2 separate regions of the Homo sapiens genome follow, and region 2 is linked to region 1. Evidence: fine-mapped expression QTL. A gene starts in region 1. The other region holds a variant in brackets. All regions are shown on one strand. Distances are between the middles of the regions.

What was found. PIP is the estimated chance that this variant, and not a neighbour inherited with it, causes the effect.
Region 2: its variant is the best candidate, but not a certain one, in a credible set for the expression of NHSL2 in whole blood (TOPMed, PIP 0.86).

The regions. Positions count from the first base shown.
Region 1 is chrX:71,908,842-71,913,228 of GRCh38, reverse strand. It overlaps NHSL2 (NHS like 2), which reads right to left and starts at 2,384. Exons shown (of 8, transcript NM_001013627.3): 1 at 1,862-2,384. The coding sequence starts at 2,141.
Region 2 is chrX:72,104,638-72,109,024 of GRCh38, reverse strand. The region is part of intron 1 of NHSL2 (NHS like 2); the gene reads right to left. Among named protein-coding and RNA genes, the nearest start is that of RTL5, 25 kb to the left of the region's middle. The variant C/T (reference allele first, on the strand shown) is at 2,199.

The DNA of each region.
Region 1 (4,387 bases):
AATGGAAAATCAGACCTTTTCACCAACTTACAGAAGGTAGCTGTGTTCCATTTATGCAGCAGTCCCTTGGGTGCCTCTGAGCCGTGGGACATGTACATTCTCAAAAGCAAGAGGCCACACCAGGGATGAGAGATGGCCACTCTTCCTGCTCTTGAAAACTGCCAAGAAGCCAAACCAGTGGTAATTTAACTTAACAATTGTTCCTCTCCATTGCAAGCTATCCATTGCATAAAGCCATCTCCTTCTAACCTGGCAGATCACCGGAGAGGGTTAGGTCCCAAAGGTGACTTGGTGAAGCCCTGCCTTCCCTCCCACAGAAAGGGCTTGCTAATTCAGTGGACAGGAAGGTAGAGTTGAAAAAACTGTCCTTAACTTACCCTACTGAACTCAGTAGGTGGCTCTCTGCAAACTGTGTAGGGATTTTGAAAACTACTCCTCAAGCTGACTTATCAAATTTCTCCTAGACTAATCCTGTAATCAGTGGGACCCCAGCAAAAAACTGAGCCCCTGCCATGCAGAGGCTCCTGGTCCAACGTCTACATTCCATCTGGCAGTCATCTGTGGCTTCCACCTTTCTTTTCCAATAGGACTCAGTTCATTTATCTCCACCAGAGACCTCTGCCATCTACCTCAGAGGTCAGAGACCTTTATGAAGAGAGGTGCCAGGGCCTGACTCCAGTCCTTCTGGAAGGGGTGGGGATGGGGTGGGGTCTGCAATGAAGAGGGGCTGGCCCAGGCAATTCTTTCCCAAGTTAGCTGGAAGCTTGCACTCAGAAATCAGCCAGCAGTCATCTTCTGCCCCCATTGGAAACTTTCTGGCCACACTGCTCCTTCTCTCCCCAGCTTTCTGGAGGAACCGATTGGCCCTGGTACCTGGCATGCCCCAGCTGTAGTCAGCATTTCCAGCCTACTCAGTCCCCTTGCTTTCAGCAGAAGTCCCACACTCTCAGGGGCACTGCATTTCCACAGACAGAGGATTCCCCGTGTAAAGTGCTGGGATCCAAAACAGTAAAGGACAAGGGCTCGCGTAGCCCCCCTACCCTCTCACACGTCCCGCGTGCTCAGTGAGGGCACCACTGGAACCTGGTTTCTCAGGCATGGCTGATTCCTAAAGTGAATGCGCTTCAGGAAACTGATGATAGTTTCTTTAAATGATTCTCTCCAGCAAATAACAGCCAGACCCTAGCGGTAGTGGGTAGGGGGTCAGCAAAGCCCCGGACATTCTCCCCTCCCCCCTCCCGGCCACTCCCCAGCACAGCGGCCCAAAACGTGCGGAGAGAAGCAAGCGGGAGGACGCTCAGACACTCCTGTGAGTGGGAGCCGCGTCCACGCTCCAGCGGGAAGTTGCACAGGTTTAAAGCCTGTAGGCACCACCGCCGGCTCCTGCCGCCGCGTAGGTTGCGGTCGGCTGCGGCGCGCTTTCTGAAGTGGCCGAGCTCCTAGACAGGAGCAAAGAAGCCAGCGGCTCGGCCATTTAGCTCCCGACGCGGCGATGAGGACGGCGCCGAGGGCCTGGGGCTAGGTGGGCGGGTAGGGGGAGTATCGCCCAAGCCGTCCTGGACCCAGCGCGTCCCCAGCCAAAACCCCAGGAGGCGGCCACCAACCCCAGGGTCGGGAGTCCCAAGGGCACGGGGCCACTCCGGACGGCGCGACCGGGTCCAAGAGCAGGAAGTTCCAGCGGTAGGGCGACCGTGGGGCGGAGGCGGGGGTCGGGGAAATGGGATCCCCTCACTCCCCGAATGGAGGGGAGGGGAGGGGCGGAGAGAGGCGGGGAGAGGGTGGGCACAGCGCTAAGCGCCGACCGGCGCCCCTAGAGGCGGGGTAGACGCGGGGCCGCGAGCCACCGGGGCGCCGTTTTTACCTAGCTCTTCCTCGTCCTCCTCCGGGCCAAGCAGGCGGCAGGGAAGGCGGCGGCGGAGGCGCACGGTGCGCCGGTACAGGCTGTCTGTGCGGCGCCCCAGGGCCAGCAGGTGCCCCTCGAGGTCCTCGAGCAGAGCCAACGAGTGGCCACAGAGGTCGGCGAGCTGCCGGAGCAGGCTGAGCGCTGCCAGGTGGCTCACGTCGCGGAGCTCCGCCAGCTGCTGCGGCGGGTTGCGCGGGCACAGGCGCTGGGGTACCACCGTGCGCCTGTAGAACGGCATCCCGGCCGCGGGCGCGGGCGCAGGGGACCAGTCTGGCGGCGCGGCGGGCTCACCCCGAGCAGCGCCCCTGGCCCGAGCGCCCCTGAGCGGCGGCCCCAGCTCCGGGTGTAGCAGGCCCCTGGGCGCGGGCCGGAGAGCGTGCGGGCGCCAAAGACGACGGGCGGGTAGGCGGGCTGACGGGTTCCTCGCCTAGAGCGCCGGCTCCCCCGGGGCTGCACACTCGCCGGAGCCACCAGTCCCTCTGACTCTGCTTCGCCGGGCTCCTCCTCCTCCTCCCCCCTCCTCCTCCTCTCTTTTCTCCTCCTCCTCCTCCTAGCTCTGCTACTTCGGGATCCCCCCACCCACCTTTTTTTTTTTTCTTCTTTTGCGGTCAGAGATTCGCAGATTAACGCTTGATCCGGGAGAGGGAGAAAGGGAAGTAGGAGTAAAAAGAGCGAGCTGGAGCGTGAAAGAAGGAATGTCTGCGTGAGGGGGGACGTAAGGTACGGTGTAGAATGTGTGCCCCGGTCCTCCTGAGGAGCTCCACTCCCAGTTCTGATGGTTAAAGTTATTTTTTGCTTTTTTTTTTAACTTAAACTTTTTCTTCATAATTACAAAAAAAAAAAAAAAAATTCAAGCACACCCGCGCCCACACCAGCGGGTAATCAGCGAAGACCGACCGAATAGTTTGACTTTATTGATCTAGATTTCCTTTCCCAAACGTACTCGGTGCCACGCACGGGCTAGACTAGGCTGTGAATACAACCTTCTAGCACCCAGGAGCTTGGAAATAAGGACCAAAAAACCAAATATCTTATTCGACTGTTCAAGAAGACAATGTCTCTAGGGAGTCCCACAGTGGCTGGACATTGTAAAGCCATTGGAGTGGATGAATAGAAACAAACCCATTTTCTGGAACAATAGACTTAATTCAGATAGAGGGACGCCACTCCATAGTTTATGCAAAAAGAGAGCCCAGGGACGCCTCCTTCTGGTAGGGTCCGCCAGCTGGGATAGGCTCTATCCCTGGCCAGGCTGGGCTGCTGGGATGCTCTCCGAAGAGGGTTACAGGAGCCGAGATGTGCTTTCAGTGCGGGCAACCCTGTGGTCACGGCCTGATTTCTCTCCATTCCAGAAGGCAGAAAAGAGGGGGCACATTATTGTCCTCAGAAAACCAGAGTACGTGAGCATATGTCCTCATGCACTTAGGACCTTTCCACTCAGAACGCTTATTTTCAACACACTGAGCTCCCATCTGACTCTCCTCTAACCCACTTCTTTGACTTTGGTGTACTTCGGTTTCTTCCTTCTCTTCATTCTCTTCTCATTTTTCCTCTTACAAATGTTCACATCCTTATAATCCTTTATAATCCATTAGCAAAACACTTTTTTTTTTAAGAGACAAGATCTACCACTGTCACCCTGGCTGGAGTGCAGTGGTGTGGTCACAGCTCACTGCAGCCTTGAATTCACTCTGGGCTCAGGGGATCCTCCGGTCTCAGCCTCCTGAGTAGCTAGGGCTATAGGCACGTGCCACCACTCCTGCTAATTTAGTTTTTATTTTTTGAAGAGACGGAATCTCCCTATGTTGCCCAGGCTGGCCTTAAACTCCTTGGCCCCAAGCAATCCTCCTGCCTCAGCCTCCCAAAGCACTGGGATTACAGGCATGAGCCACCACACTGGCCAGTAAAATACTTTGAACAGAATACCTGCATCTACATTAATGATTCTAAGCGTGGCCTGTTTTCATGCATTCCTTCAGATAATTAATTGTCCCTGAAGCAGTTCAAGAAGGTTCTACAACTAGTATATTTCAAAATTGCTAATAGATTCTAAATGTTCACACCACAGAAAAATGGTAAATATGTGAGGTAATGGATATGTTAACTAGTTTGATTTAATCATTCCACAATGTATTAATATATATACATCAAACCACATCGTGCCCCATAAATACATATAATTGTTTGTCAATTAAAAATAAAGTAAAAGCGTAATCCGATTTCCCTTTTCAGCATATAGTTGTTTCTTGTTTAGTAAATTAGAACATGGATATTAGAAAAGTTGGGTTCTGATTAAAATAAGAATCAACAAATGGGCAAAAGACTTGTACCCTTTCTGAAATGTAAAATCCAGTTGCAGAATAAAAACCCCAAATTCTCGATTTGGCAAACTCAAACCTGAGCCAAGAGAGCAACTGGGAGGAAGCAGGGACTTGGCTGGACTCTCCAGGGATACTTTTCCTTGACCTATGAGCTGTTTAGACT
Region 2 (4,387 bases), 200 kb before region 1:
AGGCCCTGGGGTGGAAAAGGATGACTGAAAGGAGCCAGTGTATGTGCGATGTATGAGGGGAGCATGGCAAGAAAAGATGTCACAGAGGTGGTCAGGGGCCATATTACTTCAGAGTCTTATGGGCTGCGGTCAGGAATTGGGGTTTGATGCTCGACATACCTGAAAGCTGTTGGAGGGTCTATGGTCTGGGGCGGGGAAGGGAACTGTGTGGTGTGACCTGACTGCTCTCCTTCACTGCCTACAGTGCCGGCAACCTGGGCTCAGCGTTTCCTTCTTCCCTGCCGGACCCGCATGTCCTCAAATTTCTGGAACTAGAAAGCCCATCCAAGGCCTCGGGATTTCACGTCTAGATGCTCACTGGAGAAATGTGTGGGATGCACACACTACTAGCCTGCTGCAGTTTGCTCAGGCTGCTCTGTGTGCAGAAGGTCTCTGTGCTCAGTGACCACTCTTCTGGTCCCGCCCCCAGGCAGCAGAGCGAAGGCTCTGGAGCAGACGATGTGGGTTCAAATCCTGGCTCTGTCGCTTATCAGCTGTGTGACCCTGGGAGATTCACGTTGCCTCTATGGGCCTCTGTTTCCTCATCTGTAAAATGACGTAAGAATAGTAACTACTTCCTAGGGAAGTTGTGATGACGCAGTGAGTGAATGTGAAGGCAACACTTCAGCCTGGCACCTAGGAAGTGCTGCACGAAGCCTGTGGACAGGCAGAAGTTTGGTGTCTTTGACTTTGAGGCTGGGGTGAGTTAATGTAAGGGCAAGTACTGCAAATGCTCCAGAACCCTTAACAAAGGGCAGCTACTGCCATGGCTAGGATAACACTGCACACCACTGTGCCACTGGGTCCCGGTTTTTACTTTCCACCTTGAGGAATCACCAAGACCTGTCAATCTGACCTCCTAACTCCCTCTCAAATCTGTTCCTTCTCCCACTCACTGGCACCTCTCCAAATCAAAGCCCTGTTACTTCTCACCTAAACAATTACAAGAACCTCCTACCTGCTGCTCTTCCTCCCTCAGATCTTGCTCTCTTACGATCCAGCCTCCACGGGGCCAAGAGAGTCATCTTCTAGACACACACAAGTCATATCAGCTCTTCCCTCTGCCTCAAAACCATCAGGATAAAATGCCAGTTCCTCAGGCTGGCTGACAGGGTCTTCCCATTCTGGCCCCTGCCTCTTCTCCGCTTCACATGCGCCACTTCCTTTAGGAGCACCATTCATCAGCTGAATTGTTCCTTTGCTCTAGAATGCCGTTCTCCCACCCCTGCCCTCTTTTCCACCTAGTAGAAGTCTACCCTTGCTCCTAGAGTCTCTATGACATTGTCCCAACTTCGCTTTTCCTCATGGGTTGTTCCTTCCTCCAACACCCCCCCGGGACTCTGTCTTCTGTCTGTTGGTGCACATGAGTCGTCCTCCCCACGAGATGGTGAGCCCTGAGGGCAGAGGAGACAGCAGAGCAGAGCAATGACATCATCTATCATTGTGTAACCTCAGCACCCAGCTTAGCCAAATCAAGGGCTCATGAGCACAAACACTGGCAGGGCCCAGGCAGGTAACACCAAAGAGAGAAGCAGGCTAAATGGGCCCTGCCGTGAACCGTGGAACTCCCTGCCTACCCACAAGGGGGCCAAACCCCTTAGTATTAGCTGATTCATCCATTGGGACCAGATCTTAAGATTTTTTAAGAAAGTGCATTGGGAACTAACTTACATTATTTATTTATTGTTTATTTATTTATTTATTTATTTAATTTTTTTGTATTTTTAGTAGAGACGGGGTTTCACCGTGTTAGCCAGGATGGTCTCCATCTCCTGACCTCGTGATCCACCCACCTCGGCCTCCCAAAGTGCTAGGATTACAGGCATGAGCCACCGCGCCCGGCCTTTTAAAAAATTTTATTTATTTATTTTTTATTATACTCTGAGTTCTAGGGTACATGTGTGCAATGTGCAGGTTTGTTACATAGGTACACATGTGCCATGTTGGTTTGCTGCACCCATCAACTCGTCATTTACATTAGGTATTTCTCCTAATGCTATCCCTCCCCCAGCCCCCACCCCCCGACAAGCCCCGGTGTGTGATGTTCCCCCTTCCTGTGTCCATGTGTTCTCGTTGTTCAACTCCCACCTATGTGTGAGAACATGCAGTGTTTGGTTTTCTGTCCTTGTGATAGTTTGCTGAGAATGATGATTTCCAGC[C/T]TCATCCATGTCCCTGCAAAGGACATGAACTCATTTGTTTTTATGGCTGCACAGTATTCCATAGTGTGTATGTGCCACATTTTCTTAATCCAGTCTATCATTGATGGATATTTGGGTTGGTTTCAAGTCTGCTATTGTGAATAGTGCCACAATAAACATATCTGTGTGTGTGTCTTTATAGTAGCATGATTTATAATCCTCTGGGTATATACCCAGTAATGGGATGGCTGGGTCAAATGGTATTTCTAGTTCTAGATCCCTGAGGAATCGCCACACTGTCTTCCACAATGGTTGAACTAATTTACACTCCCACCAACAGTGTAAATGCATTCCTATTTCTCCACATCCTCCCCAGCATCTGTTGTTTCCTGACTTTTTAATGATCGCCATTCTAACTGGCATGAGATGGTATTTGTTTATTTATTTTTAAGCTGCACTTCTGAGTGTGGAAAATTCGTTTTTTAAACCATGCAGAACAAAAAAACCTGAACTTCAGGCCACACTTGGTCTTTCAGCCTATCATCTTGCAAACTCAGAACCTTTGTGTGTGTATGTGTGTGTGTGTGTGTGTGTGTAATGAGGGAATGAATGAATGAATTCAAGTTTCTTTTTTTTTTTTAGACAGAGTCTTGCTGTCGCCCAGGCTGGAGTGCAGTGGCGCGATCTCGGCTCACTGCAGGCTCTGCCCCCCCGGGGTTCACGCCATTCTCCTGCCTCAGCCTCCTGAGTAGCTGGGACTACAGGCACCCGCCACCTCGCCCGGCTAATGTTTTGTATTTTTAGTAGAGACGGGGTTTCACTGTGCTAGCCAGGATGGTCTCGATCTCCTGACCTCATGATCTGCCCGCCTCAGCCTCCCAAAGTGCTGGGATTACAGGCGTGAGCCACCGCGCCCGGCCTCATGGATTCAAGTTTCCTAGAGCTACTGTAAATTTCAAAGGTTTGGGGGAAATTACACGTAGTCAGTTCAGTTGCTATTTGGTTTGATTTTTTGGCGTAAGGACATGAACGTCAAAATCGAAAGTCAAGTTTTTATATTTCTCTCTTTAAAAATGAAGCCCAACCTTCTTTCACCTGGTGGCTATAACAGTATTGCATTTCCTGGGTAGCTCACAGGCCTTGTGAGCAGACCTGTAACCTCAACTGTGGTGACATCCCTCTTTGAGATGCAGGTCACCCCAGAAGGAAGGGAGGGATGTGAAAGCCACAGAGACTGTTTCCATGGTGGCTGATTTGCTTAGTTTGGTAACCTCTTATAAACAAACTGTGCAGAAGATGACAACGGCACGGTTCCCTCCAACTTCCGCCTACCTCATCCCACTTATCTTAGCCCCAAGTGAGAGAGGTTGGGGGAAAGACTGAGGACTCTGAATTACAGGCATCAAGGACTCAAATTCCTTTTAGGTCCTGACTCCCTGTCCCTGGGACTCCTATACCTGGCTTTGGGCTGCAGGGAGGGACTTGCCCAGAGGCCTGCAGGGTGGGAGGGAGCCAGTTGCATTTCCTGAGTGACTAGAACACCAGACCTTGAGCTGCTTGATCCCCCATTCAGGACCAAGGCACTCAGTCCCCCAGCTACCAGAGGTGTTGGTCCATGGCTCACGGTTGAGTCTCTTCTCCAAGGTAACAACCCCTTTCCTGGGGGGCAGCCTGCATCCAAGATCTCGTTAATAGATGGGGTGGGGTGGGAGGTGGGGGAAGAAAGGCCCAGCTGCCTGGCCTCAACTGGGGCCATCTGAAGAGCATCTCAGCTCCAGAGCTTCCCATGTTATCAACTGAGGTCTCCAGTGTGCCCACACTGCAGGTGAACTCCTGTCTCTGACCGATCCTGCTCCCTCACAGGTGCTGTTCTAGAAGGCAGTTCCCAACAAACCTTTTGCAGGCAAATCAATATCTCCAAATCTGTTTCTTGGAGATGCCAGCCTATGACAATTCCCTGCCTTGGCCTCTTTTCTCTCCCTGCCTTTTCTTCCTTGTTGAGCACAATCACTCCAAACGCCCCAAGATCATCTCAGAGGATGATCCTCAACTCTTTCCTGTTGCCACAGCCACTCTCCCAGTCTGCCCACTTGCATTTCTCAGAGCCTGGTGGACATCTTCACCTGGATACCCACTTTTTTAGTCTCAAATTTAATATACTTAAAATAGAACCTCTCCTGCTATCCTAATCCACTCTTCCTCCTGACTTC